2 separate regions of the Homo sapiens genome follow, and region 1 is linked to region 2. The links come from fine-mapping of genetic effects on gene expression. A gene starts in region 2. The other region holds a variant in brackets. All regions are shown on one strand. Distances are between the middles of the regions.

Region 1 (5,000 bases), 83 kb after region 2:
TTAATTTCCAAATGTAGTTGGGGTTCATTGTGGTATATATATATATATATAGCTCTAAATTAATTTTTCTCAATTAAAATTTCCCAAATTTCCAAATTTCAGTGCTACTTTAAGATGATCTTTCCTTTTCATATTTTCTGTCATATATTTTTAGTCATTCAATAAAATTCTGGCTTTTTAATTGTGTTGTACCAACATGACACTGTTTAATAGGCACTTCTTTATGATAGGTTTTAACATTTAAATGATTAGTAACTACTCATTACTTTTATTTTTCAGGTTATCCTTTGTTCTTATCTCATTCTAATACTTTCAGGTAAATTTTAGAATAATTTTGTTGAGTTCAAGAAAAATCCTTTTGGGATTTGGTTGAATTTTTAATTCCATACATTAATTTGGAGAATTATATTTAGTCTCCTGTCATCTATGACCCTCTTCCTATTTTGTCAAGATTTTTTTGTTCTATAGACTTTAGTAGGTTTTTTAAAAAAAAAAAATATTTAAAAAAAGTGATGAGGTTTCGCTGTGTTGCCCAGGCTGGTCTCGAACTCCTGACCTCAAGCGATCCACCCACCTTGGCCTTCCAAAGTGCTGAGATTACAGGCGTGAGCCACTGCACCTGGCCAGTAGGTGGTTTTATTCTCAGATCTTTTCTATTTTTATTGCTTTATGAATAGGATCTTTTTTTTTTTTTTGAGACAAGGTCTCACTCTGTCACCCAGGCTGGAGTGCAGTGGTGTGATCATAGCTCACTGCAACCTCAAGCTCTTGGACTTAAGCAATCCTTCCGCCTCAGCATCCCCAGTAGTTTGGACTACAGGTACACACCACCACACCTGGCTAATTTTTAACATTTTCGTAGAGACCAGGGTCTCACCATGTTGCCCAGACTGGTCTCAAACTCCTGGTCTCAAGCATTCCACCTTTCTTGGCCTCTCAAAGTGTTGGGATTACAGGCGTGAGCCACCGTGCCTGGCCTAGATCATTTTTGAAATTATATTTTAACATATAAATGTGCCTGTGATGTTTTAATTCACTTGCACAATCATGTATTGAGTGCCTTCCATGTTCTGGATACTGTTTGACTGCAGGGGCACTAGAATGGGTATGTCACAGAGCCTGCCCTTAAGTGGTTCACACCTGTAATCCTAGCACTTTGGGAGGCCGAGGCAGGTGGATCACCTGAGGTCAGGAGTTCAAGACTAGCCTGGCCAACATGGTGAAATCTTGTCTATACTAAAAATTTAAAAATTAGCTGGGCGTGGTGGCGCATGCCTGTAATCCCAGCTACTCAGGAGGCTGAGGCAGGAGAATCACTTGAACCTGGGAGGCAGAGGTTGCAGTGAGCCGAGATCGTGCCACTGTACTCTAGCCTGGGCGACAGAAACTCCGTCTCCAAAATAAATAAATAAATAAATAATAAAATAAATAAAAATTTAAAAAGAAGCTCATGAGGACACAGGTCCTTAGCCAGGAGGAGTGCTGTGGTGGGAATTCTCAGAGAACTCTGAGAGCTCCAGAAAAGGCCTTGGGCCAGTGTGGGAGTTCAGGGATGTCTCCTGGAAGAGATGATGCCTGAGCAGCATCTTGAAGGCTGACAAGGATAGCAGTGTCGAGGATGGCAAGGATGGTGTTTATTGTCCATAATACTGAAGTCTTCTATAGAAACAGAGTTGATGCTTTTCAAAGCATGATAGTGATCATAGCTCATTGCAGCCTATAGATCTATGAGGTGGAATGATTTTTGTCGTTGTTTCCTCCTTTCTTTTTTTTTTTTTTTGGGAGACAGAGTCTCACTCTGTCACTCAGGCTGGTGTGCAGTGGCGCAATCTTGGCTCACTGCATTCTCCGCCTCCCAGGTTCAAGCAATTCTCATGCCTCAGCCTACTGAGTAGCTGGGTCTACAGGCACGTGCCACCACACCTGGCTAAGTTTTTGTATTTTTAGTAGAGACGGGGTTTTGCCATGTTGGCCAGGCTGGTCTTGAACTCCTGAGCTCGAGGAATCCACCCACCTCAGCCTCCCATAATGCTGTGATTACAAGCATGAGCCACCACGCCTGGCCTGTTTCCTCCTTTCGAATATTTTCCATCTTATATGTCTCATGCCTTATTGCCATAATTTATAAAACGATGTTAAGAAATAAAGATTTTTATTTTGTTTCTACTTAAAGGTAACTCTTTAATATAGCTCCATTAAGGATTATACTATTTGTACAATAATGTATAATATTTGTTCATGCAGTTAATATAACTCCATTAAGGATTATAATATTTGTATAATAATGTATGGTATTTGCTCATGAAGTGAAGTTTCTCATTTGCAATTCAAACCAACCTTGTGAGGTAGGTATTATTATCCCCATTGTATAGATGAGGGCAGTGAAGGTCTGTGAGGTCAGAGGTGTTGTCCTAAGTCCGCGAATGGTGGGTGAGCAGTGTCAGAACCAGACCTCGCGCCTCGGTCTTTTGACTAAAATCTTCAGCCCCTTCCCCGTGCTTCCTCAGTCATTGGGTACTTGCTTCTGCCAGAGCCAGCTGCGCTTGTTAAGGACGCTTGTTGGCAGTCTCCTCGCTGGAAGTGTTTATCCACAGAACAAGTGGTGGCTTCAGCACTGCCAAACAATGCTTCTGCCCAGGCCCATGTGTTGGAGGCTCTTTGTGAGGAAGGGATTAAGTTCAAGATGCTTAGACTTCAGGGTAAGCCCTGAGCTATGCTAGTCCCTCCAAGGCTTCTCTTGCGTCTTTCCCATTCTCCCATTTATAACCTTAAGCCACCTCCTGGCTGCCCTTGTGTTTTGGACTTTGCTCTGCAAGCAGACACAGATGAAGGAGAAGGAGCCGGGCTGTGGAGTCAGGGGGATCTGGGTTTCTGCACCAGCTCCACCGCTCTCAAGCCACATGATTCGGGCACCTCACTTGGTGGAGCAGTCTCCGCTTCCCCTCTGGTAAAGAGAGGACAATGGTGTGTATCTCGGTGGGTTTTTGTGGAGGAATACATGAGATAGCGATGTACCCACATGGTGCCTAAGACACAGTGGGTTACTTTCCTGTTGCCTTTTCTCTGCATTTATGATTG[G/A]CCTTGAAAGTTTATTCATTTACTATGTATATTGAATGCTTATCCTGCACTAGACACTGGGTAAGTAAAATAGGCGTGGCCTCTGACTTTGTGGAATTTGTAGCACAGTGGAGAGAGACAGCCAGAAATCAAGTGAAGAAATAACAATGGCAAATGTAATGAAGGAATAGGAAAGGATGCTGTGGGCAGGCGAATAGGGCAGACTTCCTTAATGCCGATTGTTAGAAAAGGCCCTTCGGAGGAAGCAAGAAGCAGAAGCAAGCTGATATCTGAGAGATGAGAAAGAGGAAAAGGAGCTTAAGAGCAACATAATCCAGATTGGATTATGAAAAATTATTCAGGAGCTGGGCGCAGTGGCTCATGATCCAGACTGGATTATGAAAAATTATTCAGGAGCCGGGCGCAGTGGCTCATGATCCAGACTGGATTATGAAAAATTTTTCAGGAGCCAGGCGCAGTGGCTCATGCCTGTAATCTCAGCACTTTGGCAGGCCGAGGCAGTTGGATTTCTTGAGCTCAGGAGTTCAAGACCAGCCTGGGCAGCATGGTGAAACCTCATCTCTACAAAAAATACAAGAATTAGCCGAGTATGGTGGCACACACCTGTAGTCCCAGCTACTTGGGAGGCTGAGGTGGGAGGATCGTTTGAGCCTGCGAGGTTGAGGCTGCAGGGAGCCATGGTCATGCCACTGCCCTCCAGCTTGGGTGACAGAAATTATTCAGGCTGCTTATAGAGAGTGAGGGAAATAGGGAAGCAAGAGAGGACGTGGAGACTCCATTCAGGAGGCTGTTGTAGAAATCTAACAGGAAGTCCTGGCAGCTCGGATGATGTAATGGTAGTAGAAATGGATAGTCACAGACATAGTTGAGAAATAATTAGGAGGGACAAACTTTCTAAAGTGTAACTTTGGTTACACTTTAGTTCCTTCTGTTAAATTTAACTAAATTAAATATAATGATTTAAATTTAAAACTAGCATATATAACATGATCTCATTTTTTTGTAAAATGATTTTTATCTTTCTCTGCTTGATACATGTGTCCACAAAGATATCTGGATTGTCGTTCAATAAATGTTAACTGTGGTTATTTTTGTGTGATGGAATTGTGAGGTGATTTTTTTATTTTCTTTTTTGTGCTGTACTGAATTTTTTACTTTAAAATAATCATGGCATGTCAAAATTAAAACTATGCTGAAAAGCAAATGAAGGATGATTTTTAAAAGTTTCCGTGTTGGACCTCCAAGTGCAGCAGTTGGATATGTGAGTTGGAAATTCACAGAGAAAGTCTTGACTACAGCTATAAACTTGGGCGTTGGCAGCATACTGATGATTTTGAAGCTCTTAGGGATGGATGCGGTCATCTCAAGAGACCTAAGAGAGAAAGGAGTGTGGCTCCGATGGTGCCGCGTGCATCTCTGGCACTTGACGGATGAGTGGAGGAGGAGCCTGTAGTGGGTGGAAATGAGGTTCCCAGAGAGGAGGAACTCCCGGAGAGTCAGGGGTGCAGAGCTGAGGGCTAAGTCAGGACGGAGCTGGGCAATTTCTATAAGATGCTGGGATCCGGTTCACATGCAAGGGTTGCCCACCTGGGTTTCATTCCTCGATGTCTCGTTTATCATGTACCTTCTACCTTTCTTTTCCCCAAAGCTTGTGGGTTAGGGAACTAATAATTACTTCCACTCTGTTTGGAGACTAAGGTTTCAAGACCTCTAGGATGTTTGGGGTTTGGCAAACAACTGGGTCTTTTGAAGAGCTGCTGACTTTCAGCAAATGTGGACGGCATGTTTGGAGAACATTGGTTTTTATGTGAGCCACAAGTAGGCTTTCCTCTGAGAAATGCTTTGACTTGTGAGTTTAAAGAGAGTAGCAGCAGGCCGGGCGCAGGGGCTCACGCCTGTAATCCCAGCACTTTGGGAGGCCA
Region 2 (5,419 bases):
CAATGTTTGTCAGCCTCTGCTCCCAACCCCTATACCCAGCAACCTCTGCGCCCAAGCACATGGTCTGAAGAATATTCTGGTGTTGGGCCCCTGTAGGTGGCCTGCCGTGACGGTGGAAGCCTGGAACGTAGTGACATGGATTCATCATTGGGATGTTTCATCCTAAGGAAACGCACTCGCAGGTGGCTGTAGACCTTGGGGACTCCAGCCTCGTTCATTTAAGCTCCCACAATGTTCCAGGCCCTATGCGGCTTGCAAGGGGCAGAGAGACACAGAATGACAGCCGACATGGCACTCTATTGGTGCACTGGCACTGTTTTTTTTTTTGAGATGGAGTCTTGCTCTGTCACCCAGGCTGGAGTGCAGTGGCATGATGGAGATGCAACCTCTACCTCATGGGTTCAAGCGATTCTCCTGCCTCAGCCTCCCGAGTAGCTGGGACTACAGGTGCCCACCACCATGCCCGGCTAATTTTTTTGTATTTTTAGTAGAGACAGGGTTTCACCATGTTAGCCAGAAAGGTCTCGATCTTCTGACCTCGTGATCCACCCAAACTGCTGGGATTACAGGCGTGAGCCACAGAGCCTGGCATGCTGGCACTGTTCTCTGTGCCCTACCTGTATTTCCTCATTTCCTCCTCAACGAGCTCCAGGGGGAGGTATCACAGCCAAGAAATGGAGGCCTGGGGATGTTAAATGCCATGGCCCAGGCAGCATCCGTCCTCATGAAGCCACCTTATCAGGTAGGGAGGCAGACAGGTGGCCCTCATCATTTACCTTCCAGTGTGGCAACTGAGGCAGTGTATGCGTTAGTCATGATTAAGACCCTGCCCCTTCCCAGAGGGAGATGGCAAGTGCTGTCACACAAGGTCTGTCAGATGTTGAGCAAGGCTGCCCAGTAACCTTTGGCCCGTGTCTGAAAGAAGGCACAGGAATCTGTCTCCTGGTCCAGATGGAGAACATTCCCAGCAAATCTGGAGAGGCAGACTGGAGTTGGGAGAACAGGAGGGTGTCAGGAGAGAGGAAACATCTCCTGTGGAGATTTCTTCTCCTTCCCTTCCTGCTCCCTCTTGGTGGGAGCTAAGGGCCAGGGCACTAAAGGGTCCCCTGTTGAAACTCTAACGTTCTAGTTCCCCTTTCCCTGGGCTGTTCACAGTGTCCAGGGCCTGTCAGCTCAACTTCCATCACCTTGGCAGTCCCTGAGGCACCTGAAAGTGATACTGGTCACATCAGAACACATCTCCTTATCTTTCCTCCTCACCTCTCTTAAATGTCTGTGATTCAGCCTCCTCATTGGTAAACTGAGGTCCACAGTGTGTGTTCTTCATCAACTCCGGTGGTGGGGGAGTTGTGGTGGGGATAAGAACCTGCGTGTGACTGCTCTTGGAAAGTTGGAGTAAGGGCACCCAGAAGGAATGACGACGACCCCTCAGTGCCTCCTTGTGACTGCGGGCGGGCTACGGAACCTTCCAGACTGACCGCTTCACTCTCAAATGCAGGACCCAGAATCCAACACTGCCACCACCACAGCTATTTCCCTGGCAGTATTCTCAACACTGCAGTCACAGTGATAGTCCAAAGTGTAGGTCTGATCATGCCACTCTTCCGTGAAAAGCCCTGCAGGGCTGCTCCATGTCACCAGAGTAAAAGTCAAAGTTTTTTTTTTTTTTTTTGAGACGGAGTCTCTCTCTGTTGCCCAGGCTGGAGTGCAGTGCTGCCATCTCAGCTCACTGCAAACTCCGCCTCCCGGGTTCACACCATTCTCCTGCCTCAGCCTCCCCAGCAGCTGGGACTACAGGCGCCTGCCACCACGCCCGGCTAATTTTTAAAAATATTTTTAGTAGAGACGGGTTTCACCATGTTAGCTAGGACGGTCTCGATCTTCTGACCTCGTGATCCGCCCACCTCGGCCTCCCAAAGTGCTGGGATTACAGGCGTGAGCCACCGTGCCCAGCCAAAAGCCAAGGTCTTATAATGGCCCACCAGGCACTACACAGAACTCCCCCCAACCTCTCAGAGTTCATCTCCTGCCTCGGCCCCTCTCCTTCGCTCCACCCAGCCCCTCTGGCCTCTGCCATTTCTCCATCCCACCCAGTGTGCTCTAACCCCAGAGCCTTCGCACTTGTGGTGTTCTCTGCCTGGGATACTCCTCCCCCAGAGATATCCTCATGGCTCCCCCTTAGTTTCTTCAAGTCTAATGCCACCTCCGTGAGGCCATCCCTGACTGCTCCATTTTAAATGGCAACACTTGCTCAGGCTGAAGTGCGTTCACTGCTCACTGCAGCCTCCACCTTCTGGGCTCAAGCAATCATCCTGCCTCAGCCTCCTGAGTAGCTGGGATTACAGGCATGAGCCACCCGCCTGTCCCAACTCTTTATGTTCCTCACTGAACCCTTCCCTGTTTCTTCAAATAGCCATTTTTACAGTCTAGTTTACTATTTTATTTTGCTTATTTTTCCCCCAAACTGGAATGTAAGCTCTCTCAAGCCAGGAATTTTGTTTTTTTAGCTCACAATTCTATCTCTGGCACCTAAAGCAGCGCCCAGCACATAGTAGGTGATCACTAGACAGTTGATTCACTGAGAGAACACAGAGGGACACCTCCCTAGGTCTCAGTCTAGGTGGCCAAGACAGGAGGCCCCACCAGTGACTGTGCCTTCCCCTCAGGGGGTCCGAGAGCTGGCGTGTGAGAGTGGCAGCCCCTGCCTGGCTCCGCTCAGCCATCTAGGGCACCCCTGGCAGGTGCTGTGCCTTGCCTGGGATGGAGGAGTCTCCGTCCACCTCTGGCTGGGTAGGGGCTAAGGCTGCGGGGCAGAGGGGCATCTGCTAAGGGGCACAGGCCAACCGGGCCCCAGGGAACCGCTGGCCACCTGAGATGGCAGGACAAACTCGGGCAGGCCTCCCCCCACCCCTCACACCTGGCTCACTGGTCCCACCGGGCGGTGACCTTCCCCAGGGTCACTGCCCTTTCTTGGCCCTACTCCTGGGGATCCAACCCGCTCCCAGGCTGTCGCTAGCTCCCTCCCGATCCTCTCCCTCCCCTTCATCCTGCCCAGACCCCTACCCCACCAGACCCCTCACCCGCCCTTGGTCAGATCTCTCTCCTACCCCGCTCCCCCACCCCCATCCCCACTTCCCCTCGGTCTTCACCCCGCCCCAGACACCCCCAGTCCCTCTCCCTGTCCTCCATGCCCACCCCGCCTTTCCTCCCTCGGGCCCCTGTCTCCCGCCCTAGCCCCCGCCCCTGCCCCAGCCCTGGCTCCGGCCCCGGTCAGTGCTGCGGCTCCGGCCCTGGCCGGCAGGGGCCGCTCCTCGCGGCGCCCGGGGCCCCGCCGCGCCCGCCGCCGCCGCCCGCCTCCCCGCCCCTTCCCCAGCCGGCGCTCCCGTTACGCCGCGGAGCCGGGAGCCGGAGCCCGAGCCCGCGGCGGCGGCGGGAGGCGGCGAGGGGGCGCCGCGGCGGCGGCGGTGGGGCCTGCGGGGCGGGCGGCCGGGCCCGGCCAGGCCGCGATGGCGACCAAGAAGGCAGGCTCGCGGCTGGAGACGGAGATCGAGCGCTGCCGCTCCGAGTGCCAGTGGGAGCGGATCCCTGAGCTCGTCAAGCAGCTGTCGGCCAAGCTCATCGCCAACGGTACGCTCCGGGCGCGCCGGCCTGGGCTGCGGGGGGCGCCGCGGCCTCCGCGGGAACGGGCCCCCGAGGCGCGGCCGGGCGCGGGGCGCGGGCAGGGGCGCGGCCGGGCCGCGAGGGAGCTGCGGCCCAGGGGATGTGCGCGGGACCGGGGCCTGGGGGAGCCCGGGTGCCCCGGAGTCACGCGGTGTGGGGGCCCGGGGGGGCGCCAGGGGCTGTCCCGGCGCCTGGGGTTCAAGCGTGCAGGGCGGGCTTCTGCGGAGTCTGGGGTGTCCGGGGGTCTCAGCGAGTCCGCTGCTCCACTGGGACCACAGGAGGTCAGGGGCCGGCCTGGGGCTTCCAAGAAGTTGGAGGTGATGGGGTGAGGGGGTCCCTCAGGACATGGGTGAAGTCCACAGTGTGTGTATGGTGTGCTCAGGGAATCAGGATGTGTTTATGGGGTCTTGAGAATGGGGTGTTGTACATAGACCCCTGGGGAATCTGGTTTGTAAACATATGGTGTTTAAGGGGTTCTGGGTGGAAGCGCAGACTCGAGGTGTGTGGGGTGGTGGTAGAAAGCAGGCTGGGATGTGCGTCCTGGCGTTCGGAGAAGTAGCATCAAGGCTGCCGACCTAGAGAGGTCAGGGTTGGGAATAGAGGAGAAATAGAGTCAGGGGGACCTGGAGGGAGAATATTGTGGAGCGAGATGGGAATGTGGTTGAAGAATGTCGGGAGATGGAGTTGGGTGGGTGAGGGGTTGGTGCCTGGGCCAGAAGGGGGTCTGAGGCAGCCTCTGAGTAGGAGCCTGGTGCCTGGAGTTGGTTCATGACCCCTTTAACTGGATTGGTTCTTGTACCCAATCAAATAAAATTGCATCCAGAATCCCATTCCAGTGCACAGCTCCACGTGGCCTTATTTGTTTTGGAAGCGAGTATCTTTAATATTTGCTTGTCTTTTAGTACCCGCCTAAAGCGCAGGCACCAGCACACCGTGGCCAGAGGGCAGAGGGTTTGTCTCATTTCATCCTGGGCTTCCCCAGGCCCAGTGAGCACATGTTGGCTGAACAAATGAATGAAAGAGTGAATGAATGGATGGCGGGGCTGCTCTAAGAAAGGACATCTGCACTATTTTCAACCTTCTCACTTCAGACTACCCAGAAAGGAGAGGGATGTCAGGTGTCCTCCTGGAGGGTGGTTTATGTTTGTGTCCTATGGTATTAGTGCCTGGAAATTAGAACTTGGTTTTGCGCACTCTCAATGATGGATGCATGCTGTGGGCAGGTACCTTCTGGGTGAACGCAGGTGCCATGGTGTGTCAGGGGCATGGAGATAGCACCGACCCTACACGGGCTCCACTTGGTGGAAAATGTGGACCCTTCTCAGTTATGTCAGCCTTTGAGGAGATGGTGTTCAGTGCCCTGGGCCCCAGAGGCAGCTTGCCTTTGCCCTCCGTGTCGGGCTCACCTGCTTCTCCGCTTACCTGCAGCATTTTCTCTTTTCCTCTCGGAGTTGCACAGTCCTGGGTCTACTTTGTGGCTTCCCAGCGGTGTAGGCATAATGACACCTTCTGTGCAGGTTGATTTTAGGATTAAATGGGTTTATTTGTGAGCCTCCTGGTCTTTTTTCTTCTGAATCCACTTGTTTCCTGCTGTCTTTGCTTATTCATTCACCCAATATTTGCGTGCCCACCTGTGCCAGTCACAGAACAGTGGTGAACAGCACTGACCAAGCCCCTGCCCTTATGCCCTCACCCTGCTCTCAGGAGGCAGGTGATAAGCAAATATGGAAATAAATAAACAGCACAGCTTCAGATAGTG

The links. PIP is the estimated chance that this variant, and not a neighbour inherited with it, causes the effect. A credible set is the group of variants that fine-mapping cannot tell apart.
Region 1: its variant is the best candidate, but not a certain one, in a credible set for the expression of TTC7B in whole blood (INTERVAL, PIP 0.61).

The regions. Positions count from the first base shown.
Region 1 is chr14:90,731,202-90,736,201 of GRCh38, reverse strand. The region is part of intron 4 of TTC7B (tetratricopeptide repeat domain 7B); the gene reads left to right. Among named protein-coding and RNA genes, the nearest start is that of TTC7B-AS2, 36 kb to the right of the region's middle. The variant G/A (reference allele first, on the strand shown) is at 3,079.
Region 2 is chr14:90,814,383-90,819,801 of GRCh38, reverse strand. It overlaps TTC7B (tetratricopeptide repeat domain 7B), which reads left to right and starts at 3,372. Exons shown (of 20, transcript NM_001010854.2): 1 at 3,372-3,627. The coding sequence starts at 3,507. RefSeq lists a silencer at 3,199-3,378.